2 separate regions of the Homo sapiens genome follow, and region 1 is linked to region 2. The links come from fine-mapping of genetic effects on gene expression. A gene starts in region 2. The other region holds a variant in brackets. All regions are shown on one strand. Distances are from middle to middle.

Evidence for each region. PIP is the estimated chance that this variant, and not a neighbour inherited with it, causes the effect.
Region 1: its variant is fine-mapped to the expression of AKAP6 in lung (TOPMed, PIP above 0.99).

The regions. Positions count from the first base shown.
Region 1 is chr14:32,449,916-32,466,492 of GRCh38, reverse strand. All of the region lies in intron 2 of AKAP6 (A-kinase anchoring protein 6), which reads right to left. Among named protein-coding and RNA genes, the nearest start is that of AKAP6, 130 kb to the right of the region's middle. The variant C/T (reference allele first, on the strand shown) is at 8,798.
Region 2 is chr14:32,319,652-32,336,228 of GRCh38, reverse strand. AKAP6 (A-kinase anchoring protein 6) reads right to left here and starts at 6,931. Exons shown (of 14, transcript NM_004274.5): 1 at 6,821-6,931. RefSeq lists an enhancer at 4,672-4,966.

The sequences.
Region 1 (16,577 bases), 130 kb before region 2:
AGTGTTTGGTTTTCTGTTCCTGCGTTAGTTTGCTGAGAATGATGGCTTCCAGCTTCATCCATGTCCCTGCAAAGGACATGAACTCATTCTTTTTTATGGCTGCATAGTATTCCATGGTGTACATGTGCCACATATTCTTTATCCAGCCTATCACTGATGAGCATTTGGGTTGGTTCCAAGTCTTTGCTATTGTAAATAGTGCTGCAGTAAACATACATGTGCATGCATCTCTATACAAGAATGATTTATAATCCTTTGGGTATTTACCCAGTAATGGGACTGTTGGGTCAAATAGTATTTCTGGTTCTAGATCCTTGAGGAATCCCCACACTGTCTTCCACAATGGCTGAAATAATTTACACTCCCACCAACAGGATAAAAGCATTCCTATTTCTCCACAGCCTCGCCAGCATCTGTTGTTTCCTGACTTTTTAATGATCGCCATTCTAACTGGTGTGAGGTGGTATCTCATTACGGTTTTGATTTGCATTTCTGTAATGACCAATGATGATGAGCTTTTTTCATATGTTTGTTGGCTGCATAAATGTCTTCTTTTGAGAAGTGTCTGTTCATATCCTTCTCCCACATTTTGATGAGGTTGTTTTTTTCTTGTAAATTTGTTTAAGTTCCCTGTAGATTCTGGATATCAACCCTTTGTCAGATGGATAGATTGCAAAAATTTTCTCCCATTCTTAGGTCGCCTGTTCATGCTGATGATAATTTCTTTTGCGTGCAGAAGCTCTTTAGTTTGATTAGATCCCATTTGTCAATTTTGGCTTTTGTTGCAATTGCTTTTTGTGTTTTAGTCATGAAGTCTTTGCCCAAGCCTATGTTCTGAATGCCTAGGTTTTCTTCTAGGGTTTTTATGGTTTTAGGTCTTACATTTATATCTTAATCCATCTTGAGTTAATTTTTGTATGAGGTGTAAGGAAGGGGTCCAGTGTCAGGTTTCTACATATGGCTAGCCAGTTTTCCCAACATTATTTATTAAATAGGGAATCCTTGCCCCATTGCTTGTTTTTGTCAGGTTTGTCGAAGATCAGTTGGTTGTAGATGTGTGGTGTTATTTCTGAGGTCTCTGTTCTGTTCCATTGGTCTATATATCTGTTTTGGTACCAGTACCACGCTGTTTTGGTTACTGTACCCTTGTAGTATAGTTTGAAGTCAGGTAGCATCATGCCTACAGCTTTGTTCTTTTTGCTTGGAATTGTCTTGGCTGTGCGGGCTCTTTTTTGGTTCCCTATGAAATTTAAAGTAGTTTTTTCTAATTCTGCAAAGAAAGACATGGTAGCTTGATGGGAATAGCACTGAATATTTAAATTACTTTGGGCAGTATGGCCATTTTCATGATATTGATTCTTCCTATCCGTGAGCATGGAAAGTTTTTCCATTTGTTTGTGTCCTATCTTGTTTCCTTGAGCAGTGGTTTGTAGTTCTCCTTGAAGAGGTCCTTCGCATCCCTTGTAAGTTTTATTTCTTGGTATTTTATTCTCTTTGTAGCAGTTGTGAATGGGAGTTCACTCGTGATTTGACTGTTTGTCTATTGTTGATGTATAGGAATGCTTGTGATTTTGCACATTGATTTTGTATCCTGAGTCTGCTGAAGTTACTTAACAGCTTAAGGAGTTTCTGCGCTGAGACAATGGGGTTTTCTAAATATACAATCATGTCATTTGCAAATAGAGACAATTTGACTTCCTCATTTCCTAATTGAATACCCTTTATTTCTTTCTCTTGCCTGATTGCCCTGACCAGAACTTCCAGTGCTATGTTGAATAGGAGTGGTGAGAAAGGGCATCCTTGTCTTGTGCCGGTTTTCAAATGGGATGTTTCCAGCTTTTGCCCATTCAGTATGATGTTGGTTACGGGTTTGTCATAAATAGCTCTTATTATTTTGAGATATGTTCCATCAATACCTAGTTTATTGAGAGTTTTTAGCATGAAGGGATGTTGAATTTTATCAAAGGCCTTTTCTGCATCTATTGAGATAATCATGTGGTTTTTGTCATTGGATCTGTTTATGTGATGGATTACATTTATTGATTTGCATATGTTGAACAAGCCTTGCATCCCAGGGATGAAGCCAACTTGATTGTGGTGGATAAGCTTTTTGATGTGCTACTGGATTCAGTTTGCCAGTATTTTTATTGAGGATTTTCACGTCAATGTTCATCAGGGTTATTGGCCTGAAATTCTCTTTTTTTGTTGTGTCCCTGCCAGGCTTTGGTATCAGGATGATGCTGGCCTCATAAAATGAGTTAGCGAGGATTCCCTCTTTTTCTATTGTTTGGAATAGTTTCAGAAGGAATGATACCAGCTCCTCTTTGTACTGCTGGTAGAATTCGGCTGTGTATCCATCTGGTCCTGGGCTTTTTTTGGTTGGTAGGCTATTAATTACTGTCTCAATTTCAGAACTTGTTATTGGTCTATTCAGGGATTTGACTTCTTCCTCGTTTAGTCTTGAGAGGATGAATGTGTACAGGAATTTATCCATTTCTTCTAGATCTTCTAGTTCATTTGTGTTGAGGTGTTTATAGTATTCTCTGATGGTAGTTTGTATTTCTGTGGGATCAGTGGTTATATCCCCTTTATCATTTTTTATTGTGTCTATTTGATTCTTCTCTGTTTCCTTCTTTATTAGTCTTGCTAGCAGTCTATGTATTTTGTTAATGTTTTCAAAAAACCAGCTCCTGGGTTCATCGATTTTTTGAAGGGTTTTTGTGTCTCTATCTCCTTCAGTTCTGCTCTGATTTAGTTATTTCTTGTCTTCTTCTAGGTTTGGAATTTGTTCTTGCTTCTCTAGTTCTTTTATTGTGATGTTAGGGTGTTGATTTTAGATCTTTCCTGCCTTATCCTGTGGGCATTTAGTGCTATAAATTTCCCTCTAAACACTGCTTTAGATGTGGCCCAGAGATTCTGGTACACTGTCTCTTTGTTCTCATTGGTTTCAAAGAACTTATTTATTTCTGCCTTAATTTCACTCTTTACCCCGTAAACATTCAGGAGCAGGTTGTTCAGTTTCGACGTAGTTGTGCAGTTTTGAGTGAGATTCTTAATCCTGAGCTCTAATTTGATTTCACTGTGGTCTGAGAGACTGTTTGTTATGATTTCCATTATTTTGCATTTGGTGAGGAGTGTTTTACTTCCAGTTATGCGGTTGATTTTAGAATAAGTGCTATGTGGCACTGAGAAGAATGTATATTCTGTTGATTTGGGGTGGAGAGTTCTGTGGATGTCTGTTAGGTCTGCTTAGTCCAGAGCTGAGTTCAAGCCCTGAATATCCTTATTAATTTTCTGTCTTGGTGATCATTTAATATCGACAGTGAGGTGTTAAACTCTCCCACTATTACTGTGTGGGAGTCTAAGTCTCTTTGTCAGTCTCTAAAAACTTGTTTTATAAATCTGGGTGCTGCTGTATTGGGTGCATATATGTTTAGCATAGTTACCTCTTCTTCTTGCATTGATCCCTTTACCATTATGTAATGCCTTTCTTTGTCTTTTTTTTTTTTTTTAATCTTTGTTGGCTTAAAGACTGTTTTATCAGAGATTAGGATTGCAACCCCGGGTTTTTTTTTTTTTTTTTTTTTTTTTGCTTTCCATTTGCTTGGTAAATATTCCTCCATACCTTTATTTTGAGCCTATGTGTGTTTTTGCACGTGAGATGGGTCTCTTGAATGCAGCACACCAATAGGTCTTGGCTCTATCCAATTGGTTAGTCTGTGTCTTTTAATTGGGGCATTTAGCCCATTTACATTTAAGGTAAATATTGTTATGTGTGAATTTGATCCTGTCATCATGACGCTAGCTGGTTATTTTGCATATTAGTTGATGCAGTTTCTTCGTAGTGTAATTGGTCTTTATATTTTGGTGTGTTTTTGCAGTGGCTGGTACTGGTTTTTCCTTTCCATATTCAGTGCTTCCTTGAGGAGCTCTTATAAGGCAGGCCTTGTGGTGACAAAATCCCTCCACATTTGCTGTCTATAAAGAATTTTATTTCTCCTTTGCTTATGAAGCTTAATTTGGCTGGGTGTGAAATTCTAGGTTGAAAATTTTCTTTATGAATGTTGAATATTGGCCCCCACTCTCTTCTGGCTCACAGGGTTTCTGCAGAGGGATCTGCTGTTAGTCTGATGAGCTTCCCTTTGTAGGTAACCTGACCTTTCTCTCTGGCTACCCTTAATATTTTTTCCTTCATTACAACCTTGGAAAATCTGACGATTATGTGTCTTGGGGTTGCTCTTCTCAAGGAGTATCTTAGTGGTATTCTCTGTATTTCCTGAATTTGAATGTGGGCCTGTCTTGCTAGGGTGGGGAAGCTCTCCTGGATAATATCCTGAAGTGTGTTTTCCAACTTGGTTCCATTCTCCCTGCCACTTTCAGGTACACCAATCAATCATAGGTTTGGTCTTTTCACATAGTCCCATATTTCTTGAAGGCTTTGTTCATTCCTTTTCATTCTTTTTCCTCTAATCTTGTCTTCACACCTTATTCAGTAAGTTGATCTTCAATCTCTGATATCCTTTCTTCTGCTTGATTGATTTGGCTATTGATACTTGTGTATGCTTCACGAAGTTCTCATGCTGTGTTTTCAGCTCCATCAAGTCATTTATGTTCCTCTCTAAAGTAGTTATTCTAGTTAGCAGTTTATATAACCTCTATTCAAGGTTCTTAGCTTCCTTGCATTGCATTATAACATCCTCCTTTAGCTCAGAGGAGTTCATTATTACCCACCTTCTGAAGCCTACTTCTGTCAATTTGTCAATCTCATTCTCCATTTAGTTTTGTGCCCTTGCTCAAGAGGAGTTGCAATCATTTGGAGGAGAAGAGGCATTCTGGTTTTTGGAATTTTCAGGGTTTTTGCACTGGTTTTTCCTGATCTCTGTGGATTTATCTACCTTTGATCTTTGAGGCTGATGGCCTTTAGATGGAGTTTTTGTGTGGGGGTCCTTTATGTTGATGTTGATGTTGTTGTTGCTTTCTGTTTGTTAGTTTTTCTTCTAACAGCCAGGCTCCTCTTCTGCAGGTCTGCTACAGTTTGCTAGAGGTCCACTCCAGACCCTGTGTACCTGTGTATCACAGTGGAGACTGCAGAACAGCAAAGATTGCTGCCTGCTCCTTCCTCTGGAAGCTTCGTCCCAGAGGGGCACTGGCCTGATGTTAGCCCGAGCTCTCCTGAATGAGGTGTCTTTGACCCCTGTTGGGAGGTGTCTCCCCATCAGGAGGCACGGGGGTCAGGGACCAACATGAGGAGGCAGTCTGTCCCTTAGCAGAGATGGTGGGCTGTGCTGGGAGAATCCCTCTTGTCAGGATCAGCTGCTCATTTCAGAGAACAGGCAGGAACAACTAAACCTGCTGAAGCAGCAACCACAGCTGCCCCTTCCCCCAGGTGCTCTGTCCCAGGGACATGGAGGTTTTGTCTGTAAGCCCGTGACTGGGGCTGTTACCTTCAGAGATGCCCTGCCCAGTGAGGAGGAATTTAGAGAAAAGGTCTGGCCACAGCTACTTTGCTGCACTGTGGTGAGTTCCGCCCAGTCCAGACCTCCCAGCCTCCTTAGCACTGTCAGGGGAAAACTGCCTACTAAAGCCTCAGTAATGGTGGATGCCCCTCCCCACACTAAGCTTGGTAGTCCCAGACTGACCTCAGACTGCTGTGCTGGCAGCAAGAATTTCAAGCCAGTGGTTCTTAGCTTGCTGGGCTCCATGGGAGTGGGGCCCGCTGAGCAAGACCACTTGGCTCCTTGGCTTCAACCCCCTTTCCAGGGGAGTGAGCTGTTCTGTCTCTCAGGCATTCCAGGCACCCATGGGGTATGAAAAAAACTCCTGCAGCTAGCTTGGTGTCTGCCCAAACAGCTGCCCAGTTTTGTGCTTGAAACCCAGGGCCCTGGTGATGTGGGCACTCGAGGGAATCTCCTGATCTGCAGATTACAAACACCGTGGGAAAAGCATAGTAACTGGACAGGTAGCACAGTCCCTCAAGGCTTCTCTTGGCTGGGGGAGGGAGGTCCCCACATCTCCTTGCACTTCCCGGGTGAAGCAACGCCCCACCCTGCTTCTGCTCACCCTCTGTGGGTTGGACCCACTACCTAACCAGCCCCAGTGAGATCAAATGGGTAACTCAGTTGGAAATGGAGAAATCACCTGCTTTCTGTTGCTATTCAGCCATCTTGGCCAGTTAATATATCTCTTATATCTCTTTTAATCTGTACCTTTCCTCTCTCTCTGTCTCCCTCTCTATCCTGGAAATTTTGTTGAAGAAACAGGGTTGTTTGTCCTGTAGAGTTTCACACAGCCTGGGGTTTGCTGATTGCAGCCCCATGATATTATTTATCTAATTCACTAATTCACATTCCCCTCTCTCTCTGTCCAATTCTCCTGGAAATTGACAGTTAGATCTAAAGGCTTGATTATATTAAGTTGTATTTTTCCTTTCTTTTTTGGCAAGACTAATTTATTGATGGTGTTGTATGGTTTTGTCAAGAGTTGTATGGTTGTCTTTATTTTTATGTTTTTTGAGCAGCCAATCACTGCCAGCAGTCCTTACATGGATATTTCTCCCATCATTCTGATTACCTAACATATATTCTCCAGGAGATTCCGCAGTAACTATTTATGGGAAAAATATGTCCTTATTTCTTGCAAGTTTGTCTGTGGCCTTTATACCTGAAGTTCTATGTGGCTAAACCCTTAGCTCCCATTTTCCATCCCTGAGTATCCTAAATACGTTACTCCACTGTCTTCTGAAAAAAAAAAATCAGTTGACAAATTTCGGTGACAATTTGATATTCTTTTTTCTTATTAATGACTTGGCTGTTAAGACTGGATGACCACTGAATTTTTTCTTCTTTTTTTTTTTTTCCTTTTTGTAATCCAGTGATTTTTACTTTTCTAGGTAGATTTTTTTTCTTATATGTATGCCTTTCCAATAAGAAATTTTAAATCATTTAAATCTTATTTCAGGGAAGTGAAGATGTTAATATTGGTTCTATTCCACTGTTTTTGTTTTCTTTCTTTGAGATTTCTATTATGTATGTGTTGAATACTCTTAGCAATCTGTCTGTATCTATCACTTTTTCTCAAAACCTTATCCCTTTATTATTTATTTTTTTACTGAATTGTAGTAAACATACAATAGAGTTCATCATTTATAAGTATAGTTTGGCAAATATTCATAAACAGCTGTATGACCAAACTCTAGAACATTTTCATTGCCCCAAAAAGTTATCTCATGCCCCTTTGCAGTCAATTGCCTCCCCCTTACCCACATATACATAATTCAATCTCTAGCAACCACTGATCTGTATTTTGTTCCTATGTTTTGCCATCTTTTAGAATGTCATCTAATTGAACTCCACAGCACATAGTCTTTCTTATATCCGACTTATTTCATGTAGCATAATGCTTTTGAGATTAATATTGTTGTATGTATAAGTAGTTCAATTATTTTTATTGCCAAGTAGTGTTCCTTTATTAATAACATTTTCTCTATCTTTTCACCAATCGATGGATATCTGGGTTGTTTCTAGTTTGGGGCTATTACGAATGTCTTTCCTCCCACCCATACTTTGTTTTTCTTAAACTAATATCTGTTGCATTATTTTGTCCTTGCATTCCTTCCTTCTAGCATAGTCTTCATTCCTGAAATTCTTTTTTCCTTTTATTTCTAATTCTTTCCTGACTTTACCTCTCTGTTAAAATCTTCCTTCTCTTCAATTATCATATTTCTGAGTTTTTAAAATTCTGATTCATGTTTTTATTTCATAGCTTCTATCATTTTCTCAATTGTTTTTGGCTCAGTTGGAAATATTAGGTATCATTTTCATTTATTTTGTGGGCATTTATTTCTGGCATGCTTTTATTGTCTGCAAAGATGTTATTCTGCTCCTTAACCTCTTTTGTAAAAAATAATAACTTTGTATGGTAATCAACTCTTTATGTTGTTCATTTTCTTCATTCCTATTGTGACTACTAATAATACTTTCAGCGACATTTACAATTACAAATAATATAGGAAAACTTCCTAAGAATATATAAAACTAAGTATAGCATCAGCAACATATATAATTATACAGCTTCTGTCATCTGCAAAAATTAGGTAACATCATTACCACTCATGAATTTTTTGAAGTCAGTATTTATCCTTACTTTACTGAAGAAAAAAACAACATACCAGAAGTTAAAAGCTTCTTCAAGTTTATAGGGAGACAACATTACAACTCTCAGCTCATAGTTATTGGAGCATATATTAAAGATGTACATAATTAGAAAAATGATCATTATCTTAATCTAAAAAATTGTTTTTTCTAAGTAGACTTTACTTTGGGCACCCTTCTTAAAAATGAAAGCAAATTTGAAATAATTATGATGCTAATGCAGTTCTAGGGTGGTAAAAGAATTTCCATCCTAAACAAATTAACTTTCTTTTATATACTTATATGTATTTGCCAAGGCTTTTCACTCACACTAACTTGCTATCAAGTAGGCAGATAGAATAAGATATGACTTTGGTCATTGGAAAATAACTGTACCATAGAATGTCTGATGTAATCCCAAAATGTCAGAGTAAATAATTGTGAGTTACTGAAATGACCAAGTCAGCTTTGCAAAATTAGGAGAAGGAGGTCTCAGGCAAGTGAATGGAAATGTTTAAATTTTTTACTTTGGCATGATATGGGTCCCAATTATATAACTAAAGTTTATAACATCTCTATCTAAACAGAGATGAAAATGCCAATGGAACAATTCAGAAATTTCATGTTTATGACGTAGATGAAAAGCATGTGGTCTGGAGACCAGGCAC[C/T]GTCTGTGTAGCTTCACCAGGCGCCTGAACTCTATCAGGATGTCAGCGCCAGCAGCACACAGGGAGGAATTTCCAGCGTGGTCATCATTCTGTTTGGTTTTGCTCTCTCATCTAGTACTGTGTTGAAGTTCTAAAGTTGACCCTTTAATTAACAAGAAGGTTAAGATTTTTTTTTAGTTCAGCCTCCCCTAGCACATTACTGGGTATGATGGGAGAGGGAATACTCTCACCATATTTGTTATATTAAGAACTCTCAGTTACCCAAGGCAAGTTTCTAATTCTGAGTTACCTCTATTCCACACCAGGGCCATTTGAAGCCAAACAGTGAAGAAGATGTAATAGGGTTCAGAATCCTCAAGACCTTACCTGATACTGCTAAAAATGTCCATTGCCAAGGGAGCTTCAGCCTTTCCCCCTTTCCCACTTGATCAATATCTACCTTTTCTATATTGGATTTCCTCAGGCCCTACTCAGTAGATACCACTCAGTAGTAGTCCAGCCTTGTCTTCACCAAGAAACGTCTATTGTGCCTGTTCAACAAATTAAATTTATTCAGAAATGATTTGTTTTTTTCCATTTAATCAGTGACACATTTAACTGCTGCTCAGAGTTCCCTGACTAATATGATATAAGAGATGCTAGCTACCTTGTGGATTTGATATAATTTCAGACAGAGGGCAATAAAAAAAGTCTGTCTATGAAGTTACATCTTGGCTAAATTTATAATTTCCATCCCATATTTTGAAGTTTTAAAAGTATTTTGAAGACTACCATTTATTTCAACATCATAAGTTGAAGATCATTGATTTTTTCATATAAATTATTTCTCCTAATGCATGTAATTCCCTCCTCTTGGGTAAGTTAGTATCTTCCTTTGATTAAAAATGCATAAAATTATTAGCACAAAAGAAACAGCACGTCCATTAAGAGTTATATTTGGGGTCCTTGGACAAGATCCTCTTCTCTGACTCTGGTCACGACCAGTCCTACCTGCCAACCACAGATACATGATAATTTAAGGTACCTATTTTGAGACAGATATTTTGACCCAGCCATTTGACAAACCATTATCGAATGATAACATGTACTTGATTGACTTAGATTACACATCCACAAAAATTTCAATTTGATAGCATAATTCACTTTAAAAGACTTGTCATCAGCTAAATATTTTTGTTATTTGATAATAAAACAAAAAATTTTGCATGTTTACTTCTGAAAACAGTTGTATTTGGTGATTTGTTTAAATAGTATTATAGCTTTGTGCTTGTATTTTGGTTTTTGTAAAAAGATTTTGATCTCTTTGGTTTTTTTGAAGTCAAAATTAAACTATATTTCTGTGGCCTAAAGACAATATTTCTATTTTTTCTTCATTTTGAAAGATTTGACAAATTAAGTAAGATGGCACTAATGACATTGAAAGTAGTATAAGACTGCTCAGCATTAAAATTAAACCATGGTGAATGTTGCTTTTCATATAAGACACCGTGAAAACATTTAGGCCAATTTCCATGGATCCCATCGGTATTAGCACTATTACTGTTTCTGCTTTATAATCAACTATACTCATGTATTTATTAAGTCTAGCCATTTCTAAATTTTTGAAATGCATATATATCTGTCCTTTACTACATATGCTCCTCTACCACCGAAAAAAAACAGAAACAAATAAAATCTTCAGCTCTTAAAAAAATCACCAGGTTAAGATTACAATAAAATCCCTTCTTCTAATCAAAGCAGCCACTCCAGAATGTCCTTCTTTGGTGAATCACCTTTACCCCCAACCCATTTATCTAGGCAGATGCATAGTCAGTAAATTCAGTCATTTGTTTAGGATTTATACTTCAGTACTTCCAAAGTAGGTTGGGGGCAGGTTACAAGTGTTATATAATTTTAAAATAGGACAGAACTGATAAAAACAGATCAGAGTAGATCTAAAGAAAATAAAGAGGACAGAGATTACAAGGTTTACCATATTGTTCCCCTAGCAACAACATCACAAAAGAAAATTTTAAAGTGAACCAATTTTGCTTCAAAAGAGGAGAGGGCAAGCAAATTTATTTTCAAATTAATTTTCAAGGAAGAATCTCAGGATTTTGAGTAAATTATGCTTGATGACAATTTGGCAAATACACTGAGACAGTATTCCAATGGATAATTCTCACATCCAAATCATCACACTATCTAATTGCTGCATGTTCAAGAAAAATAGACAACCCAATTTTTAAATGAATAAAAGAAAGAAAACAATTTAACATAAAGAAGCACTTACATTGGGGAAAATAATCTTACTCATTTCAAATCTAAAATTATATGCCTATTTATATATAGCAAAAGAGAAATCTGAAATTTAAAAAGCAAAACTCTTTAAAGACCTAAATATGTGTATTATCTGCATATTTTCATATCACATACAAATCAAGTTTTTGGCCAGGCATGGTGGCTCACACTTGTAATCCCAGCACTTTGGGAGGCCAAGGTGGAAGGATTGCTTGAGACCAGCCTGGGCAACATAGTGAGGCCCATCTCTAAAAAAAAAAATTGTTTTTTAATTGAAACAAAAATAGCTGGGTGTGGTGGCCCACACCTGTAGTCCCAGCTACTCAGGAGGCTGAGGTGGGAGGATAGCTTGAGCCCAGGAGGTTGAAGCTGCAATGAGCCATGGTCATGCTACCACATTCTGGTCTGGGTGAAAAAGCAAGACCCAGAATGAAAGGAAGAAAGGGAGAAAGGGAGAAACAGAGGAAGAGAGGAAGAGAGAAAGCAGGGAAGGAGAGAAGGAGGGAAGGAGAGAAGGAGGGAAGGAGGGAGGGAAGGAGGGAGGGAGGGAGGGAGGGAGGGAAGGAGGGAGGGAGGGAAGGAGAGAAGGAGGGAAGGAGGGAGGGAGGGAGGGAGGGAGGGAAGGAGGGAGGGAGGGAAGGAGGGAAGGAGGGAGGGAGGGAGGGAAGGAGGGAGGGAGGGAAGGAGGGAAGGAGAGAAGGAGGGAAGGAGGGAGGGAGGGAGGGAGGGAAGGAGGGAAGGAGGGAAGGAGGGAAGGAGAGAGGGAAGGAGGGAGGGAGGGAAGGAAGGAAGGAAGGTCAAGTTTTCACTGTAATTTATCTTCCTGCTGGTCTGCTCCAGCATTAGTCCTTGCCTCATGTGACCTCATTTTCTACTGTTTCATAGTTGAAAACATTAGCAAGTGCAAGACCAACTACTGCTTTGCATGTAAAGCCTTGTGGCACGGGAGTCAGGCATGGCCACATGAGAAGCTGAGCTCTGCCCAGAAACCTTGCGAGCCTTGCTATAGAAGGACAAGCATTCTCATCGGTTGTGTTCTAGCACATGACTCGCTGAAGGGGGTGTTCCCTTTCTAAATATAAAAGCTCTGCTGCTTCATACAAGACCTAGATGCAAAGAAATAAAAGGGCCATCAATCTCAATTTCTCTTAGTTATTTATTGCTAGCTTCTATCAGATATATTTTTTAAAATGCCAGTGAAAAGAGAGATCCTGAGGAAGGTACCTGGGGATAGATTCAGGGAATGGACTTTGAGACATGTTCAGACAGTTCTGAGAGGACTTGGCCATCTGGTTTGTTTTGCAGGCTGACTGAAATCTCCTGCATAACTTGAGGCCATCCGTACTCATGGTTTCTTCATGTAAAGTCATAAAATGAAATGAACTAAAGTTCAGAGATGAGCCAAAGACAGACAGACTCTGAGAGCTTTACCAAATAATTCACTTCTAAGGAATGCTGTCTAACTTGGATGCCATTCATGAGAAAAAGATTTTATTTCTAATTTGGCTTAAAGAGTCAGTTTGAAAAATTCGGCCGGGCGCAGTGGCTCACGCCTGTAATCCCAGCACTTTGGGAGGCCGAGGCGGGCGGATCATGAGGTCAGGAGATCGAGACCACGGTGAAACCCCGTCTCTACTAAAAATACAAAAAAATTAGCCGGGCGCAGTGGCGGGCGCCTGTAGTCCCAGCTACTCGGGAGGCTGAGGCAGGAGAATGGCGTGAACCCGGGAGGCGGAGCTTGCAGTGAGCGGAGATCGCGCCACTGCACTCCCGCCTGGGCGACAGAACGAGACTCCGTCTCAAAAAAAAAAAAAAAAAAAAAAAAAAAAAAAAAAAAAAAGAAAAGAAAAATTCTATTATCTCCACAGGAATTTCAAGTGGCTAATAAGAATTTAGTAGCCTGACTTTCAAATAGCCCAGTAAGCCTATACAGGCATTGATTTTAAGAATACACTTCTAGATAACTAATAGTTATCAAACTAGATTACAACACTGGCTTAATTTTCATCTGAGGGATAGAGAAAAAATCCCGCCACCTCGTGACTATATCATTAGAGCTGTGGGATATAGAGGAAAGGACGCTGGATAGAGGGTCAGAGGGCTGAGGTCTAACCTAGATTCTGCCACATGTCAGCAGTTTGAACATGAGAATTCAACTTCTCGGGGCCTCTGCTTTCTCATCTGTAGAATGAGGAGTGGAGCTGGATGATATGTTACCCAATTCTCAGATTAAAACAAAAATTATCCCACTTCTCTAAATGTCCTTGAATGGAAAATCCTACATTCATATTGGTGTGCTTATGTCTACAATAATAAATTATGTTTCTGAAGCTAGGATTCTCTTTCCCATGAGGAAGTCTTTAAAGCTCATGTTACCACCATTCCTTATTTTGAGTGTTAAACTAAGATCACAGAGGATTCAGGGTCTCTGACTTTCATCCTTCCAACAACGGATGGCTTCATAGTATGAATACTATACGTGACAGTAGCACTTTCATTTTTTAAAAGTATTTACATGTATTATTTAATTTGTATCTCACAGCTACCTAGTAAGGTAAATGGTAGATACTATTATTCCTATTTTGAACAGAAAAATTAAATGAGACTTAGAGAATTTCAGTCACTTGCCCCAGTACATAAGAATATTCACAATCAACCAAGGAATTGTTTATTAATATGGTCTCTGGAGCACAGTTCAACAACATGTACTAAAATGTAAAACATGCATAGCCTTTGACCAAGCAATTCCTTTTCCTTCTTTTTTTTTCTGTAGAAACAGGGTCTCCCTATTTTGCCCAGGCTGGTCACAAACTCCTGGCCTCAAGCAATTCTCCCTCACCAGCCTCCCCAAGTGCTGGAATTACAGGTATAAGCCTCTGTGCCCAGTCTGACTAAGCAATTCCAATTTTAAATATTTTAGACAAGTATACAAAGATGTATTCTCAAAGAAAATAATCACCACACTTTTTATAATAGGGAAAAAACAGAAGCAACCTATATATCCATGAATAGGAGACTAGGAAAATATATTAAAACACAGCCAGGCAGTGGATTAATATGCAGCGTTAAAAATTATAGCATAGGCTGGGCATGGTGGCCCACACCTGTAATCCCAGCACTTTAGGAGGCCAAGGTCGGCAGATTGCTTGAGCTCAGGAGTTTGAGACCAGCCTGGGCAACAAGGCAAAAGCCCATCTCTACAAAACATATAGAAAAATTAGCCAAGCATGGTGACCTGGGTGTGGTGGTGCATGCTTGTAGTCCCAGCTAGGAAGCTGAGGTGGGAGGATTGCTGGAGCCCCAGAGGTGAAGGCTGCAGTGAGCCGTGATTGCACCACTGGACTCCAGCCTGGGCAACAGAGCAATACCATGTCTCAAAAAAAAAAAAAAAAAAAAAAAAAAAATGTAAAGAAAAGAAAAAGAAAAAGAAAAATGATAGCATAGAGTTATAGTTGGTAAAGTAGAAATATGGCCACAACTTACCTTTGATTTGGAGAAAAGGGGTGGAGGAAGTAGGGTTAAGACATCAATCAGCACTATCCAATAGAATTCTATACAATTTGGAAATCTTTGCTGTCCAGTACAGTTGCCACTAACTACTATTAAAAGGTGGCTAGTGTGACTAAGAAATTGCATTTTTTTCAGTTTTATTTCATTATAATTTATTTAAATTTAAATAGCCACATGTAACTAGTGGCTACCATATTGGGCAATGCAGTCAACATAGATATTTTATGTGTTATTTTATAATAAAAAATATTAAATGTTTTGTTTAAACAACAACAAAAACAACCAACTTGTGTCTAGGAGACAACTAGAAGATACAGAAATAAATTAGTCAACGACAGCTTTATCTAAAAAGCTGCAATGCCTGCAATATTAGGCCCAAGTGCACATTTTATACACATAGTTTCTGTACTTTGGCATAACTATGCTAATTTGGCAAGTTTCCTAGATACTAGTCCACATACTAGGAAATAAATAGCTGTATACAAATAAAGCTATATCTTTTGTGCAAACTCTGCAGAACAGGCCAGAAAGAAAAATAAATGGAAGGAAGCAGAAAATGGGAACTGGAACATTGAAAGTAGGATCAGGTTTTTTAAAAAAGGATAATAAATTATTCAACTCACTAAGTGAATATGTAGTAATTAGGAAGCTCATGTTTTCTTCTTATGAGTTTTGATTATATCAAAATTACTGAAGCAACAAAATATCTTATTTTCTTGTATACCAGCCAGTATAAAATTTAGTCTTGATGAATCATGCAAACTAGCTAAAGGCTAATCTGACTTTCAGACCTGCACAAAGTAGGAGACATGTTTGTTTGTTCATAAGTATTTCCAAATTCCAATCCACTTGCAAATATAAAGCAATAGAGTAAACTAATTTTTTCCACTACCAGATATTAGATAGATAAAACATAATAATAAAGCCACTTTCCTCGTTTTGTTATTTTCAACATTTTACTATTATAAATGATATAGTAAACATATTCACATAGAAGGGATTTTTTCTATATTGGGATTTAAAGAAGCTTTCTTAAAGACCAAATTGGCCCAAATTGTAGCATTCTTAACAGTAAAACTATAACTAACCAAGGCCCTCAATTAATTCGATTCCTCCCTCCTTCTACTTTTTAGAAGGAAAAAAAGAAACCTCAAGAAAAGATATTGAAGCAAGGAGCAAACTTGCAGTATAAATCTCTTAATACATCCAAATCTGTTACTCTTACGTGAAAATGATATTATAACTGATGACTTCAAAAACTTCAGTATCATTAATCCTGAGAAAGCTTTAGGTATGTTCAGTACTATGCACTTGATTTTTGAAAGAGAAAGTATACTAATACACAATAAAAATATAGTACAATGGAGAGTCAAACTTATTTTTATCTCATTGTGTTAACTAAAAATTTCAAACAAAATATGCCCTGCCCCTTGCAGGCCTTGTTAAGTGAGGCTATATTTCCTATATTTCATTGTGTTTTAATGACCAAAACCAAATTATAGAAGAGTGTATTTTGATTGGTAGCATATATAAGTTGCCACAAATCAATCCCTCTCCCTCTCCCTCTCTCTCTCTCTCTCTCACACACACACACATCCCAGCTCACCCTACCACAGTCACAAAATCAGCAAGCAGTATTTGGATTGGGATAGAATCATAATCAGAACTACTAACATTTCATGTAGCATCAGAAATTTCAAAATTCTTCTAAAGAATGATCTTGATTTTTACAACAATCTTCAGAGGTGAATATTTACAGCTAAGGAAATTCAGGTTCATAGAAATTACTAAATTGCCTGGTGTCCAACTTCTAGTAAGTAGCAGAAACAGGAGCAGAACTAGGCCTGCCATCTCCAAATCCTGGGGGCTTTCCACTCTGCCTCACTCCTGGAACCAGCCAGCAGGCAAGAAGGAGGCACGAGGGTAGGCATGACAACTGACTATCACTAATTTGAAGAACTCCCATTCCAGCCATTAAAAGCTGGCTGAC
Region 2 (16,577 bases):
AAAAAAAAAACTTACCTTTTTCCTGTGCAGCAAGTGCCATCATTCATACCCATTTTCTAACAACTCTCTGCAAATCTGTAGATTAATAGATTAACACAGCCACTTCTCACTGTGACATGATGGGTGGGAATGTTTCACCCACCATAAGGTCCAGGAGTTGGTCACCAGCATCTCATTATTATAAACAGTAATGGCAGATATGGACTTCTGAACATTAGCATGGCTGGAACTACCTTGCTGGAGAAGGGTTCATTATAAATATTGACTATAATTCCCTTTTAAATTGAAAAAAAAAAATGAACTTTTCCTGTAGTAATATAACCTCGAATTATAGGCCCTCTGGCCTCCTGGAGAGAGAGAATTAAAAAAAAAAAAAAAAAAAAAAAGGAGAAAAGGATAGTATTAAAAAAAAAAATACCCAGACAGCATAAATATGTTGTGTAATTTAAATGAGAGTTAAACAAAGCAGGTGATAAAAGTAATCAAGTAGTAAACAAAGGGCAAGAGAATTAATATAAACATTGAACCAACAGGATGGTTAATTAGCTTGCTTTGCAAAGAAGATTTGATTTCTCCCCTGAAAGCAATGGTGGTGACAAATAAACCTCACCTACCAAATATCTTCAAGTATAATGTAATATATCCCCCATTGCCTATAAAAGAAATGCCACTGAGTTCCTTTGCATGCCACTGAATTACCATCTACAAGGGCCTTGCTCTGGGTTGTTTTGACAATGGTCCCTTAGTTTTTCTAAGCACTACAATTTCTATTTGAATTGTTCCAGAGTAGGAGGAAGTGGGGAGTCTGAAACTCAAACATCTACAGGGCTCAGGCAGTATCAGTGGGGGCACCAAAAGGGCCATATGGGACTGGCTACATAAGGTCCACTGTAAAATAAAAATGTGGAGCCTCTTATTAAAAAATTATTAAGAATTCCAAGATGGTTACAGCAGAGTATTAAACTAAGTGTGGGCCCTTCTCAGTGCAGGGCCCTATGCAACTACACAGGTTGCACACCCATAAAGCCTGCCCAGCAGCCATACAAAACAAGCTGCAGGCTAGGTTTAGCTCATGTATTAGCCAGTTTGAGACCCCATTCTAAAGGCTCTACTAGCCAGGTGGGGTGATGTGCACCTGCAGTCCTAACCACTTGGGAGGCTGAAGTGGGAGGATCGTTTGAGCCTAGAATTTCAAGGCTGCAGGGAGTAATGATTGCACTACTGCAATCTAGCCTGAACAACAGAGTAAAACCCTGTCTCCAAAAAAAAATCTGAAAATAAAATAAAGGTTCCACATTCTCTCCCTACTTACCCTTGTGACTCAAAGCACACCACTGCAAGATGGCTGGAAGAGTTTGGAGCATGCCCCATGGCTGAAGAACAGAGAAAAATATGGCTGGTGGCTTATGAGGAAAACAAAGTCTGTCCTTTATCTTCACCAAATCTTAAAGCCAACTCAGGAATTCAATTACTGACCGGTATGTGCTCGTGGAGAAGAAACTGTATGCCTTATTAATTCAAACTGCAATAGTCCCCCTCATTATCAGGGAATATGTTCCAAGACCCCCAGTGGATGCCTGAAACCATGGATAGCACCAAACCCTACATATACTATGTTTTTTCCTATACATATATACCTGTGATAAAGTTTAATTTATAGATTAGACACAATAAGAGATTAACAATAACTAATAATAAAACAGAACAATTGTAACAATATGCCAGCATCACTAATCTTGAGCTTTGGAGTCATTATTAAGTAAAATAAAGGTTATTTGAACATGGGCATTATGATAGCGAGATAGTTGATCTGAAAACCAAGACGGCTATTAAGTGACTTAACAAGCTGGTAGCATATACAGCATGGATATGCTGGACAAAGGAATGATACACATCCCAGGCAGGACAGAACAGTAATGGTGAGAGATTTCACTGCACTATGCAGAACAGCGCATAATTTAAAACTTATTGTTTATTTCTGCAATCTTCCATTGAATGTTTTCAGACCACGGATAACCATAACCACAAAAGGCTAAATCACAAATAAGGGCGCGGAAGGGGCTACTGTACCTAAAACTCTGTTGCCATGGCCAAAGTCCTATATGGATTGCTATTCCTCTGAAAAACCACACTCAGGGCCCATCTACAGAGTTCAGTCAATATGATTGTTTCGAGAAATGCTTCCCATTTAAAGCAATACTGTAAGGCACACTAGGGCGATTAGATGAGACTGAAGGTAACTGGTATACCTGTCCTTGTACAACTAAGTGTGTAGTTGGTACCTTGTATGATACATACCTCCATCAGCAGGCTGGCTGGAATGCTCAATTTAGAGGGCTCTCTGGACAATTTTTAAAGGTGATGAATATCTTTTATAAAAACAAAAATATCTCTCCTTAACTGATCTGCCACACACATTTCATATTTCCATATGTCAAGTTTGTCAACTGAGATAGACATGCACTATTTGACTGATTATAATTTTATTTCTCAAAATAGTTTATACCAAAAAAATACTAATTGCCATATTGGTCTTGTCCACATCCAGAAAGATTCTAATCCAAACCCATGCAAGAAAAAAAAAAGTTATTATTTAATGCAGTAAGTTTACCTCCACATATAAACCATATAGCTATATGTACCTATACAAATGTGCACAGATAATGGGCTTCTCTAATAACACATGGAATAAAAAGTAAATAGAAATAGTATTGCAGTATTAGAGGAAATAAATTATTTTACCAATTTACCCATTTTTCCCTTCCCCTCTAGAATGTAGCTGGGGAAGAGATTTGCATCTGTCTTGCTCATTGCTATAGATTCCCTGACAATGCCTGGCATATAGGAGATATTCAATAAATATTTATTGAATTGAATTGAATCCATGCGATCAAAACAAACTGCCATTCATGGGTTCTAGGATTATAAATAGAAGAAAATCAGAGACATGTAGCAAGACCACCAACTTCCCTAAATTCCACTGGCTATTTTATTTCCTAATTGGAACCTAACTCCTGTAGTCATTGTACCTAGCAGCTTTGATGCTTTCTGATCAGCCTCTCATTCCTGTACCTCATGCAGACACAAGCTTGGGCCTCTTTGGAGCAGGTTAGGACAAAGGTTAACTTCTTCCTGGAACCTAGAAAAGGCTAATGAGCCCTGTGGAATAATATTTCTAAGTATTCACCATACAGGAATCAATATCAACATGCTGTCAGTGTGTGCATTAGCCCCACACTCAAACAAAGAACAGCCCTTAGAGCCCAATAATGACGCTGGGCGTGGATAGCTGGGGATGAGCAAGATGATACAGAAATGACTATATCAGCTCTCCTCAAACACAAGGCTTCCAGGTTATTACACAAGACTGTCATTCTTGTACTTTGTCAGAGATAGACAGAGTTTGGTTTCAGCCACTGATACATTCAGCAAAATAAATCCTCTATCTTCTTAACCTAAGAGATAGATTCAGATTACACTTTCCAGACTGTGAGAGAAGTTTCTGCTTCTGTTCTCAACACCAGGTTGAGAACAGAACCTGGTGCAACAGCAGGGAATACAAACATCTTAAAGTTAACAAAGCACCACAAATATAGCTGATAAGACAGGTTTATAACAAAGCTGAATCATTACTGACTCAGGTAAGACCTGCTTTGAGTGCAACTCCATCATGCCCACAATTATTGATGTAACATTTTCCATACAGAGATCCTGCTAGAAAGTTATATCAAGCAAGGGCAGTGGCAAAAGTCTAAGCATCAACTCTTCATTACTTAAATCTCTGGGTACAAAGTAAATATTCACATCTGATCAAGATTCATGCTCATCCTTACAGTGAAATCAACCTTAGTGTTGCAAATGACATTTCATTCTACATATGAAATCTGATTTTCCAATTAGAATGAGGAGGGGTGGGGTACGTGTGATAGAGTATAGATGACTGATCTGTATGGTATATACAGTAAAGATGTCATAAAACTGAGATGGCCGTGGGTAAGCATGTGTGCTGCATAGCCAGATCGCAATGGTTTGGAATCCTGGCCCAATCACTTATTAACTACATAACCTTAGCCAAGTTTATTCGCCTGGCTAAGGACTGGTTTTTGCAAAATGTGAATAATAACACCTAATCCTATAAAGTGAGATTATTACTCTCTACTTCATAATAATAATAAGGGCTAAATAAGATATACACAAAACTTAATTCAGTACTGATACACAGTAAGAACTGAATAAATGATAGCTATGATTGTTATTATGATTATTATTTTTATCATCCCTATGCGGCCTAGTTATCGGCAAAGAATTAACTTCTTTGTAACTTTGTAATGTATTTGTGAAAGCCATGACCAAAAGTATAGAGGACATTAACTTCTTGTGAGGCTTCCATGGCCTAAACTCTGTCCAATAAACATGGTCTTGATGATCTATCATTACTGTGAAACAAAATTCCTTAAACTGTAGAAAGTTTCAGTGAGGCACCAATAAATACAGCCATAGAGAAATCTCTCCCTTCCCCTATACACACACACACACCATCTACCCCTTGGGGATATATTAAAACTAAGACAACTGAAATAGCCTTAGCCAGTAATTAAGACATGCAGCTAATCAGAGAGCAGCGCAGGCTGTGGCCCTCTACAAAGAAACGAAGAAACAAAACATTAGGATGATAGCTCTCATTACCAGGGCTTTGTTCTCCTGGAGCAAAAAGAGCACAAAAGCATAAAGTTGGAGAACTGTAATTGCATTTTGAACATTTGCGGGGGGAAAAATTACAGGGTTGTCTGAACCGGGAGGATGTTCCACTAGATAACTGCGTCAGTCCACACCCACCAGCGCCCTTCCCCACCCTCAAAGCATGACTCCACTTTTTCTAACACTGCCCTTAAGGAATCTAGCTTTTGTGACTTCCAGTAATTGAACAAATCAACCATGATGAAGCAGCTGAAGAGCACTTTAAACAAAAGAGACAAGAATTAAGCAAACAGAAAACTCATTACAATGCTGCCTTTTGCTTTTTTTTACTCCTAGAAATTCATGTTACCAAACAAGTCTTTCTTCATTGCTCTTCTTCAGAAATAATACTTTAAGAAAATTCTAAAAGGCACTAAGTGATTTTATCCAGATTTATAATCTAGCTACAAGACATACTTTCCCTTCCCCCATCACCATCTAGCACTCTTCCCTGTCACCTTAGAGCTTTCGACTTAGATGTGTTCACACCCAGCAGTCCCAGCAGAGCTTTCTGCTCACATTATATGACATAAAAAAGCAGGCAATGAACAATTCATGCTTCTAAGTGCTTGCGATAAAGCCAGGCTGAGCTGACCTCTCCCATCCTATACAGCTGCATGTCAGAAACATAAGCTTAAAGGACTGAGAGTAGCAAGCATGTGCGTGATGTGGTATAAACAAACAAATTAAAACCTGAGGCCTTTCCTCTGGCTGGTGCCTAATGGGACTAGCATACTTAACTCTGTGCAAAAAAAAAAAAAAAAAAAAAAAAAAAAAATCACTCCAAGCTAGCTAAAGGTATTGCTTTTCCTGCTTTCCATGATATATCTCTTTAGCCCCAATAAACAGACTAAAAGAAGAGGAATTCAATGGTTGCCATTCTTTCGTGTAAGACTTTTTGAGTAAAAACTATCAATTTGGCAGCATTAAGCCACAAGACCACTCCCTGATTCTAAGTGGACATATTGATCAATTGAACTGACATGTGCCTCCTCCTTTCTCTCCCCTAGTAGCAATCAGCTGTACCAGGGAAATCCATTTCATTTCCCAAAACAAAAGGCAACATTCTGCTCCTTATCTGACACTGTCAGACTAATTTTTTAGAAAATAATAATAATAATAAAGATGCCTAAAAACAGAGCTAGGAGTTGAAATGAAAATGATACGTGTTTAGAGTTTTGGAATTGAGTTGAGGTTATGACTGAGTCCAGAGGTCTGTAATCCCTACAACCACTGAGGACCCTGATATTTATTCATCATACCCAGATTTTTGTTAAAGTTAAGCAAGGGATGGCAACACCACTGCCACTTCAGAGGCTCTCCCAGGGTTACCCTTCACTGCAACTGCCGCAGAGAGGAGACTTGTTCCTTTCTCAGTTACAAGTCAGCCTGCAAACAACTCCAGCTATTTCAGAGACTAGCTAGAGATGGAAAAATATGTGGCAGTCTTTCAACTAACTCTGAAGGACATGGGTTGAAGAACTACCATATAGATCAAAAGGCTCAAATAATTTCATTTGGTTTAGGTTTTTATGCTTTTAATAAATTCTGTCTTGAATATGCAAGAGATCCCCTTTCACATCAGGGTTATGTCAAATGCTTATTCAGCATTTGTTCCTTGCCATGAAGAAACTGAAACCCAACCGAGGTAAATAATGAATTTCATACTGCAAATCACTGAATATTTCATAATTCACAAGAGCAAAGAGGGGGCCAATTAGCTCTGCCTCCCAAAAAGAAATCTATATTTTTACAATGCTTAAATACTGTTAACTACTCATTTTAAAGCTTATCTGGGGTTTTGCAATTGAAAAATCATCTTATGTTTATGAAAAATTCTGTAAGAACACTTAAAAATAACAGACAGAGCTGGAGCAAGAATAATTCTACATATTTTAATTCCTATATGACTCTTACAGGCCTTTGTCTTAACCCGGCAGCCTGAAAAACGATTTAGGTAAAACAGCCCTTCTTTCCCCAGTCCATTTTAAGCAGAGACAACATCCCCCAATCTCCGCCTTAGCAGACACCGACTAACCAACAAAACAGCCGTGCAATTAAGGCCCAGACATTTAACACTCACCATCTCCTGATCCCACCGTCTTCTTTTGATGTTTACAGCACATCTGTAGGATGCAATACTAGGAGATGCCTTGTTTGACCTGCTGCATGATGCTGTGACATCAGTTCAGATGATGCAGCTCATTATGGGAAAGACTGCTGTTGCTATGGCAACTGGGATGTGCTAGGAATCCTTGCTGCATTTCCAGTGGAGCCTGAGACAATACGGAAGCCCTGTAAGAAACAGACGATATGCAAAATTTAGACCAAAGGAAGAGGATTCCTCATTGGACTAAAATCCATAGGTTTAAAAGGGATTTCCCTGAAAGCATTTTGGAAAAAACAAAAATTATCTCCCCCTTTGTTGTTATACATTTAGAAAAAAAAGGTGGGAGGAGAAAATAGAATTAGTACTAAGCAAATAAAAACTGAAATGTACAATGTTTCCTTATTAGACAATTTGATCACTTTTTCCTCCCTGGTCAGCACTGGGATAGCTTTTTAAAAGTTATTAAAAAGAATTTTTGCTCATCTGTCAAAGACCAAAAGAACAAAACAGCGAGCACAAAAATAATTAAAAATGGAATATAAACAGCTGACCAAATGACTCTAACTCTCAAGTAAACAAGTTTTAATTCTCAAAACATGGGCAAACCCTTGGCCAATGAAGTCTGTCCTGGTTATTTTCCCTGATGAACACCAACCCACAGAACCTTCCCATGCAGAATAAACCCAGCTTTCACCTGGTCATCAGATAGGCAGCAAAGGGAAGTTTGGAATCTAGAGGGGCACAACACACCACCCTCAACTTCTACTGACCCTTCCTTTGGCCTGCAGGGAACCCCTCCTTCTCATGGCCAAAACGCATGTGAGTCTTTTCTGGGATCAAACCTAGTGGTTGGAACAAGTAGCAGACCTGCTAGAAACTTCCTAAATCGTTGGCATTCCAAACATTGGGGTCTGTTTTCTTCTTTTCTGAACAATAAAACTGCCTACCACACAGATTATTTGTGCCCCTCCCCAACCCCAAAAGCTGGAACTGTGTGAAAAGCCACATTTAAACAAGACACGGTAAGGCATTTCTCCAGTTGGTAAAAGAAAAGCAAATCTAAAGCAATCACTTCTTTCCAGTCCTGAGCAGAAATCAACGTCATGTGGTGAGAACTGGGGAGAAGGAGATATGGACAGAGCAGCCTATGTTTTGCATATTTAATATTTGCAGGCCATTGATAGAGAAAAGCAGAATCAAGTTGACCTGTATCCACTCCGTCTTCACAACTCTGAAAAAGAACAACATTCCAAAAGCTTAAAACATGAGACAATTATGTTGTCTCCTCCTGCTTGAGATTTTAAAATGGCACTGTTAACCACCAGCATAGGCGGTGTGGGATGAGTGGCAGAAGGAATTCAGGCAGTGTCTCTGTAAACAGGAGCTAATAAAATGCCTGAGAAGTGCCAATATCCCAGCAGCGTGCACCATCAGCCTCGCACAGAGCAACCCTGCCCTAGATGGGAAGACAGACTTGTTCTTGCTTCATCTAGAGAGGAATTAAGAGACCAAAAGCAGGAGGTGAATCTGCCTGCTTAGGTCCTTTGTGGCATCAGCAGAGCCTGACTCCCTCCCTTTATCTTAGACCTCAGACCACATGCCACACACAAGGGGAGAAGTAGCAGGCAGCTACCCCAGTACAAAGAGTACAGATCTGAGAGTCAGGAAACCCAACTGTAAATGTCAGGTCCTCCTAGAGCATCTGTGTGATATCAGGCCAATTGATTAACTTCTTGGGGCCTCAAGTTTTTCATCTGCAGAGATGATTGATTTAGCTAATAACCATAGTTTTCAGGTTTTTCATTAGTAATATAACCTTTCTTTTAATGATACAGATCAAAGCTGGACTGCCTTGGTTGAGGCAAGATAAGAAGCCCAGAGCCCAGACTGATGAGCCATTCTCAACCACTGCCTCCAACCTCATTTGCTGTAAGCTGACTCTTTAAGATACCTCTGAAGAACCCTTCAGTCTCTGGAGAAGATAAAGAGACATGGACCTATTACAGAACAAGATTAGTCTTTCCAGAGCTGAAATCCACATGCTATAAAGAGGAGAGGACAGGGTGGGAGCAGGTGTTCCAGATTTGAATATGGCTTCTCAAGATGGTAAGAATCTTGTTAATCTTTTTTGCCAGAAGCAAGTCAATCATTTGATGGGAAGAAATGGATGGCTCATCAAACCTGAGGCCAGGTCAAACTTTTAGCAACCTGGACTAGCTAAATTGCTTGCCCACAAAATGGCACTCACCAATGAAACGGAAGTAGAAGTGGAAACCATCAACTCCAAAGGTGGCTAAGACCAAGTGTCTCTTCTTCATGTTTTCCTGTCCTGCTAGCTGGATGCAAAGAATCCAGTGGAACTCTGAAGCCCAGAAAGATAATGGCCACACATTGTGGATGGAGCCTGGGTCCCTGAATGACTGCATGGAGCTCAACCATCCTCTCCCAACTACCTATTGACCTACACTGGGCTGCAATGAGTGAGAAACAAACACCACCAAGATTTTGGGGTAGTTTATTCTGAACAAATTATCCATTTATAGATAAAATTATAATTTAATAAAATATAAATTTTCTAACAAGATTATATTATATATCATTATTTATGATAAAGTGACAGTGTTAAAAACATGTTCCTTTATTGCAGACTTTCTTTTTTTATTTTATATTACTTTAAGTCCTGGGATACATGTGCAGAACATGCAGGTTTGTTACATAGGTATACATGTGCCATGGTGGTTTGCTGCACCTATCAACCCATCATCTAGGCTGTAAGCCCTGCATGAATTCGCTATTTGTCCTAATGCTCTCCCTCACCTTGCCCACAACCCCCCGAAGGGCCCTGGTGTATGGTGTTCCCCTCCCTGTGTCCATGTGGTCTCATTGTTCAAATCCCATTTATGAGTGATAACATGCAGTGTTTGATTTCCTGTTCCTGTGTTAGTCTGATGAGAATGATGGCTTCCAGCTTCATTCTTTTTTATGGCTGCATAGTATTCCATGGTGTACATGTGCAACATTTTCTTTATCCAGACTATCATCGATGGGCATTTGGGTTGGTTCCAAGTCTTTGCTATTGTAAATAGTGCTGCAATAAACATACATGTGCATGTGTCTTTATAGTAGAATGATTTATAATCCTTTGGGTATATACCCAGTAATGGGATTGCTAGGTCAAATACTATTTCTGGTTCTAGATCCTTGAGGAATCGCCACACTGTCTTCCACAATGGTTGAACTAATCTACACTCCCCAAAACAATGTAAAAGCGTTCCTATTTCTCCACAGGCTCTCCAGCATGTGTTGTTTCCTGACTTTTTAATAATTGCCATTCTAACTGGCGTGAGGTGGTATCTCATTGTGGTTTTGATTTGCACTTCTCTAATGACCAGTGATGATGAGCTTTTCTTTCATATGTTTTTTGGCCACATAAATGTCTTCTTTTGAGAAGTGTCTGTTCATATCCTTTGCCCACTTTTTGATGAGGTTGTTTTATTCTTGTAAATTTGTTTAAGTCCCTTATAGATTCTGGATATTAGACCTTTGTCAGATGGGTAGACTGCAAACATTTTCTCCCATTCTGTAGGTTGCCTGTTCACTCTGATGATAGTTTCTTTTGCTGTGCAGAAGCTCTTTAGTTTGATTAGATCCCATTTATCAATTTTGGCTTTCGTTGCAATTGCTTTTGGTGCTTTAATCAGTAAGTCTTTGCCCATGCCTGTGTCCTGAATGGTATTGCCTAGGTTTTCTTCTAGGGTTTTCATGGTTTTAAGTCTTTAATTCATCTTGAATTCATTTTTGTATAAGGTATAAGAAAGGGGTCCGGTTTCTGTTTTCTGCATGTAGCTAGCCAGTTTTCCCATCAGCATTTATTAAATAGGTTGCAGATTTTCTAAGAGTTTTCAATCTGCTAATATGCATTGAGACTCTCCTGTAGAAATATAGTATGCAGTATTTTCCTAATTTATATTTAATCACAGAATCCTTTTTTCATAGACTAATGTTCCATTGGGTGTCCATCTGCAACATAGTAAATATGACTGTAAACAGCAATGAGCTAGAACACCACTAAACCTCCAATTCAGCCTGCGGCTGCAGAAGAAGGAAAAAATAAAACTTCTCTCACCTTCAGCACAACTCAGTCTGCCTCCAATCTTTCTCTGCCATCCTGAACTGACAAGACAGAAATCTGGTAGTATCATTTGCAGACAGCAACATTTATAGAAATGTTTCCTCCTGGTCATTTTTTTCCTATTTGTAAGTAGGCATTGGCTATAGTTTGAGTGTTCCCTCCAAAATTCATGGGTTTGGTTTTCTGGGTTTGGTTTTGTTTGTTTGTTTGTTTATTTGTTTGTTTAAGAGGAGGCATCTCAATATGCTGCCCAGACTGGATTCAAACTCCTGAGCTCAATGAATCCTCCTGCCTCAGCTTCCCAAGTAGCTGGAACTATAGGCTCATGTTGAAACTTAATTGCCCTTGTGATGATACTTAAGAGGTGGAGCCATCGTGAATAGACTAATACCACTATCATAGGAGTAATTTAGTGACTGCAGGAGTTCAGCCCCCTTTTTCCATCTCTGCATTCTCACCCTCTCACCATGTGATCTCTTCCACAATGTTATGATTCAGCAAGAAGGTCATCACCAGATGCAACCCCTTGATCTTGGACTTCCAGCCTCCAGAACAAATAAACTTCTTTGTATATAGATTACTCAGTGTTAGATATTGTTATAGCAGCAAAATATGAACAAAGACAAAGTTGTATTCCAAATTCTTATTATTTCAAAAGCAAATTAGTATTATTTCCAAATCATTAACTCATGATGTAAACATACATCTTGTGTTTGCATGCTAGGGTTTTAAAAAATCTTAAAGCCATTTCTGAAAATGCAGCAGGCCTGCATCTCTTGGTATACAATGAGAAAATTTGTAGATCTGAGGAATGTGTCTGTTAGTTAAGGAAGTACTAATGGATTTCACAGCTAAGCTGCTAAATTACTCTGGCTAAATATAGTTGTGTATGTCTTATTCATTTGAACTCTAACTGAATATTCCTGACTGCAGATGACCTTCTATGTGGTTATTCAAGACCTCTCTCTTGAGGTTTCACCTTCCTCTAATGCCTTACATTCCTGGGCATAAGTTGACCAATTGAGGAAAGATGGGAGATGGTATAGGGGAGGTTTTCATGGGCTAGGTCTGGAAGTACCCTTCTTCACTTCCACCCCACATTCCACTGGTTAGAACTTGGTCAAATGGCCATACCTATTGCAAGATAAGCTGGAAAATAGAATTTAGCTTTGTGCCATGAGAGAAAAGGAAACAGCTAAAATGCATAGTTATCCAGTTCTGCCACATCATGAGATCAGGAATATGATCCTTGCTTCAGGCTGCATTTTACCTATGTGTCTGCAATACCTTCACTGAGTCTTCTGAAGCTCAACTGAACGTTCAGGTGTATAAGACTATCACAGTCAACATTTGGCACCAGCCTACTCAGAGAGTTTGCCAACAGAGCAGCATCAGGCATTCCTCTTCTCTGGAGTCTTGTGGTAATCCATGGAACAATCTATACAGTGTCCAAAGCTATTCTATCTGGCCCCCTGGTGACAGTTTAAGAACTCAGGTAAGAACACATTAGGCAAGTTCAAGAGTGCCCGGCCTTGAAAACCTCATTCCTCACAGGAACCAATATCTTTGTAACAACTTCATAGGCATAACTTCCAGATCCCTCCAAGAGACACACCTGGTTACAAGAGTCATTGCACTCAGAGAAGCCCAAAACTACAGCTTCTTCTTAGAATTTATAGTTATCTCAAACTAGCTACTAAGGAGGGCTTACTCCTCATCTCCCATTTCAGATGTAGCCAGGGAATATAATGAATGGAACAGGGCTATGACAGAGTAAACAAACAGCCCGTCTTGGAGAGCAGAGTCAGGGCCAGACCAGGTAAATTCCCCTTCTCCAAGGCAGTCATTTTCACTAACCAAGGGTCATTTTTACCCTAACCAATGTTACCCAATAACATGGTTGACATTTTACTGTTTTCAAGGGAACAGAGTTACAGAGTTAACCAAACGTCAAAATCTTATGCAGAAGGAGAAAGGGTTTAGTGAATCCTCTACCAATAGCGCCCAATTTTGGCTTTAAAAAAGACCTTCATTCACAAAATAGAAAAGTATTCAAACACTCTAACCACATGCCTATATGATCATAAGCCCATGCTGACTGTGGATGCTGCTTCAACCCATACACTTTCTATGTTTTCTGAGAGTATTTGGAGGCCAAAAATATTTGGACATCAGATATTTAGGCACAGTGCATTTGTGTGGCTGCTATTGTTATTGAATGCTCATCATCCCTCTGCTTTATGTAGGTAGCCATGTAAAGAAGAAATTATTACCTGATGATTATCAATCATTGGCAATCAGAACAGAACTTGCAGCAGCAATAATGGTATACAAATTCAGTTATTTTGTTACCTAATTTTTGCATTTATTATTTCCTCTTAGATATCACCTTTTCTACACTCAAACTTACATGCTTTGGGTGGGAATCTAACGAAAGGAATGGAGTATGTGACCCAATCAATCTTAAGCTAATCAGTTTATTACTATTCCCATGACCCACGGAAATTAGTTCAGAGGTGTACATGGGATACCATTGAAGCCACTGAGAAGCAATGAAACATTTTACTGAAAATCACTATTGGCTCCTGATTTTGAATAGGAAAGGATGTCAAGTCTAAAGTTGCTCATCCATTTTGTATTCATGAATGAAGAACCTGTCTAAGAATAAAGCCAACACAAGGAGAAGAGCAGAGCTGAGTTGAGAGAAAGGAACACTTTCCTCTCACCACTTATGCCAGAAATCAGCCTTACTCTGGTTCTGTTGGTTATGAGTCCAAAAGTCCCTGTTTCTGCTTAAGGCAATGTATGGCTTGGAGGTTCAGTCACAGTAAACAGAGGCCTAACTGATTCACAAAGTCATCTGAGAAATTGTGTAATGTATAAGTAGGCACCAGTAGCATGCAGCTTCCTAGGAAGGGAAAAGAAAAGCTATTAGGTCCCAGAGGGGTTCACAGCCTCAGAGCTGAGACCCTTCAAAGGGTTAGGTTCAGGGCCAGAACTGGTAAGACCTACTCACAAGGTAGATGCAAGATATTATCCTCCCTTACTCCTGAACATTCCCAAATTTATGATAGTGACCACCATCTCAATGAGCTTGAGTTCCATTCCTCTCCTTTCCCAGGCAAAATTTCCATTGGCAAAGACGAAAACCTCAACAAGCCCAGGGAGGGTAGATCAGATCTTGAATGAACATTAGATTTGGAATCTGAAATAGACCTTGGGGTGATTTTGCCCATAGAAACTTGCCCTAACCAGTTCAGAGATTTCTCTGACGTCCTTCTGAATTCAAGATTTTCTCTTGTCTGACTTTATGGAACTTTATAGTGTTTTTATTTGTTTTTGTTTTTGTTTTTGTTTTGCTGTTTTGAGACAGGATCTCACTCTGTTGCCTAGGCTGGAGTGCAGTGGTGCAATCACACTTCACTGCAGCCTCAACCTCCCAGGCTCAGGTGATCCTCTCACCTCAGCTTCCTGAGTAGCTGGGACTATAGATATGCCAGCATGCCCAGCTAATTTTTGTGTTTTTTTGGAGAACAGGGTTTCACCATGTTGCCCAGGCTGGTCTTGAACTCTTGGGCTTAAGCAGTCTGCCTACCTCAGCCTCCCAAAGTGCTGGGATTACAGGCATGAGCCACCACACCTGGCCGACCAGTGTTTTGCTGTTTCATTTTGAATTTAACTACAAACACAAACATTTGACATGGAACCTACTGGCTTTAATGTGTTAATGGAAGCACAATTGTGCTGCTAATTTATACAGGCAAAGGAAAACACTGAGGACGAACATATTAGACAGGAGTTTACAAGCTTTTTGAACTGGGGCTTTCCTGTTTTAGCATTCGATGTTTTCATAGGTCTTAATCTTGCCTCCTCAAGTACACAGCTCTTTATGGTACTGCTATTTTGGTCACACTCCTAGGCATAAGCAATTTCTTAATAAGTCCTTCTTAATTCTTAATTATTTGAGAAAAATAGCATTATTTCTATTCCAGGCAATGATAAGCTTCCTGCAAGCTTTCTCTTTATCACCCCAGTGTTTGAAACGTTGTAAGATTCTACTAAGGTTTATATGTGTAAATCTTTATCCCTTCCTTTACTGCCTAAAATACCAAAATATAATTTGCTACTGAAAAGATTAGACCTAAAATGACAAAGCAAGTCAGCAAGAAAACACCTACTATGTGTCATCAGAGTTCTTATTTGCAGGAAATAAAGTGGTGCTCATGATACCTGTTTTCAAGTTATTCACAACTGTCTTGTAACTAACACAGCAATTTCACCCAACAAGTTCTTTCAATTTAGTCTCTGCCCCTTACCTGAGAAAAAATATTGATAATCAATCCTCATTTACAAATAGTCTCCCAGCATAAACAAATTACATTATAGAAAAATGGAAATTTCCAAGATAATTTTAAAGGCGTTCCTTTTTCTAAGGAAAATAATTATATCATGCTTACAAGGTAAAAATCCTTCAGTAATTAATATATTAAAGGGTACACTACAACAAAATCACAGCAGCTCTAACAAAAAAGATTTACTTATGGGGTAGAAACATTTTCTTTAGTGAATAATCCAGTTTGACAAATACACTCTTAAAAATCAGCTCTATGAAGTGTAGGGTTGTACACTATTCACAAGTCTTTCCATTTGCTAGGGTTCTATGAAATAAACAAGAGCTGAAATCCTACATCCTATGATAAGTATCAACTTCCTTTTACCTCTAGCTGAGACTTTACATCAGCCTGCCTTGTATTCCACTAAACAGATGTTTGTCTGTCACAGAAACAACTTCAACCTCCTTTGGGTCAAGAACTGTCTTCCAGAGTAGCATAGGTTGTGTAGCAAGCACTTGTTGGGCACCTCGCCTAGTAAATGTTTTTATCTGAGTTTGCCAAACTCAGCAACTTAATCCTCCCTCCTATTCTCCACCCCTGGCCAGTTAAAGACATGCAATCAAAAATTCCAAAACCAGCCAAGTGCATTGGCTCATGCCTGTAATCCCAGCACTTTGGGAGGCTGAGGTGGGTGGATCACCTGAGGTCAGGAGTTCGAGACCAGCCTGGCCAACATGGTGAAACCCTGTCTCTACTAAAAATACAAAAATTAGCTGGGTGTTGTGGCACATGCCTGTAATCCCAGCTACTTGGGAGGCTAAGGCAGGAGAATCACTTGAACCCGAGAGGCAGAGGTTGTAGTAAGCTGTGATTGTGCCACTGCACTCCAGCCTGGGTGACAGTGCAAGACTCTGTCTCAAAAAAAAAAAATTCCAAAGTCAACAGTCAAACATAAACATGTGTGCATATAAATACACACACATGCACATATAGATTTAAAAATATATGTGAGAATGAATTTTTGCATATAATATCAATCTTTCCTTCTCATACTAATGACATCATTTTACATTTGTTTACTAATTTACTACTGAAATAAACATTCTGTCAATATACTTATTATGAAAACATTTCACAATAATACAAAATATTATTGTTCATAGAATTCTTCTGAAAAAGATTACACAGACACAAACATAAAAGTAAATATATAATACATGTCACAAAAAGAACATATACAATAATACATACATTGAGATATAAA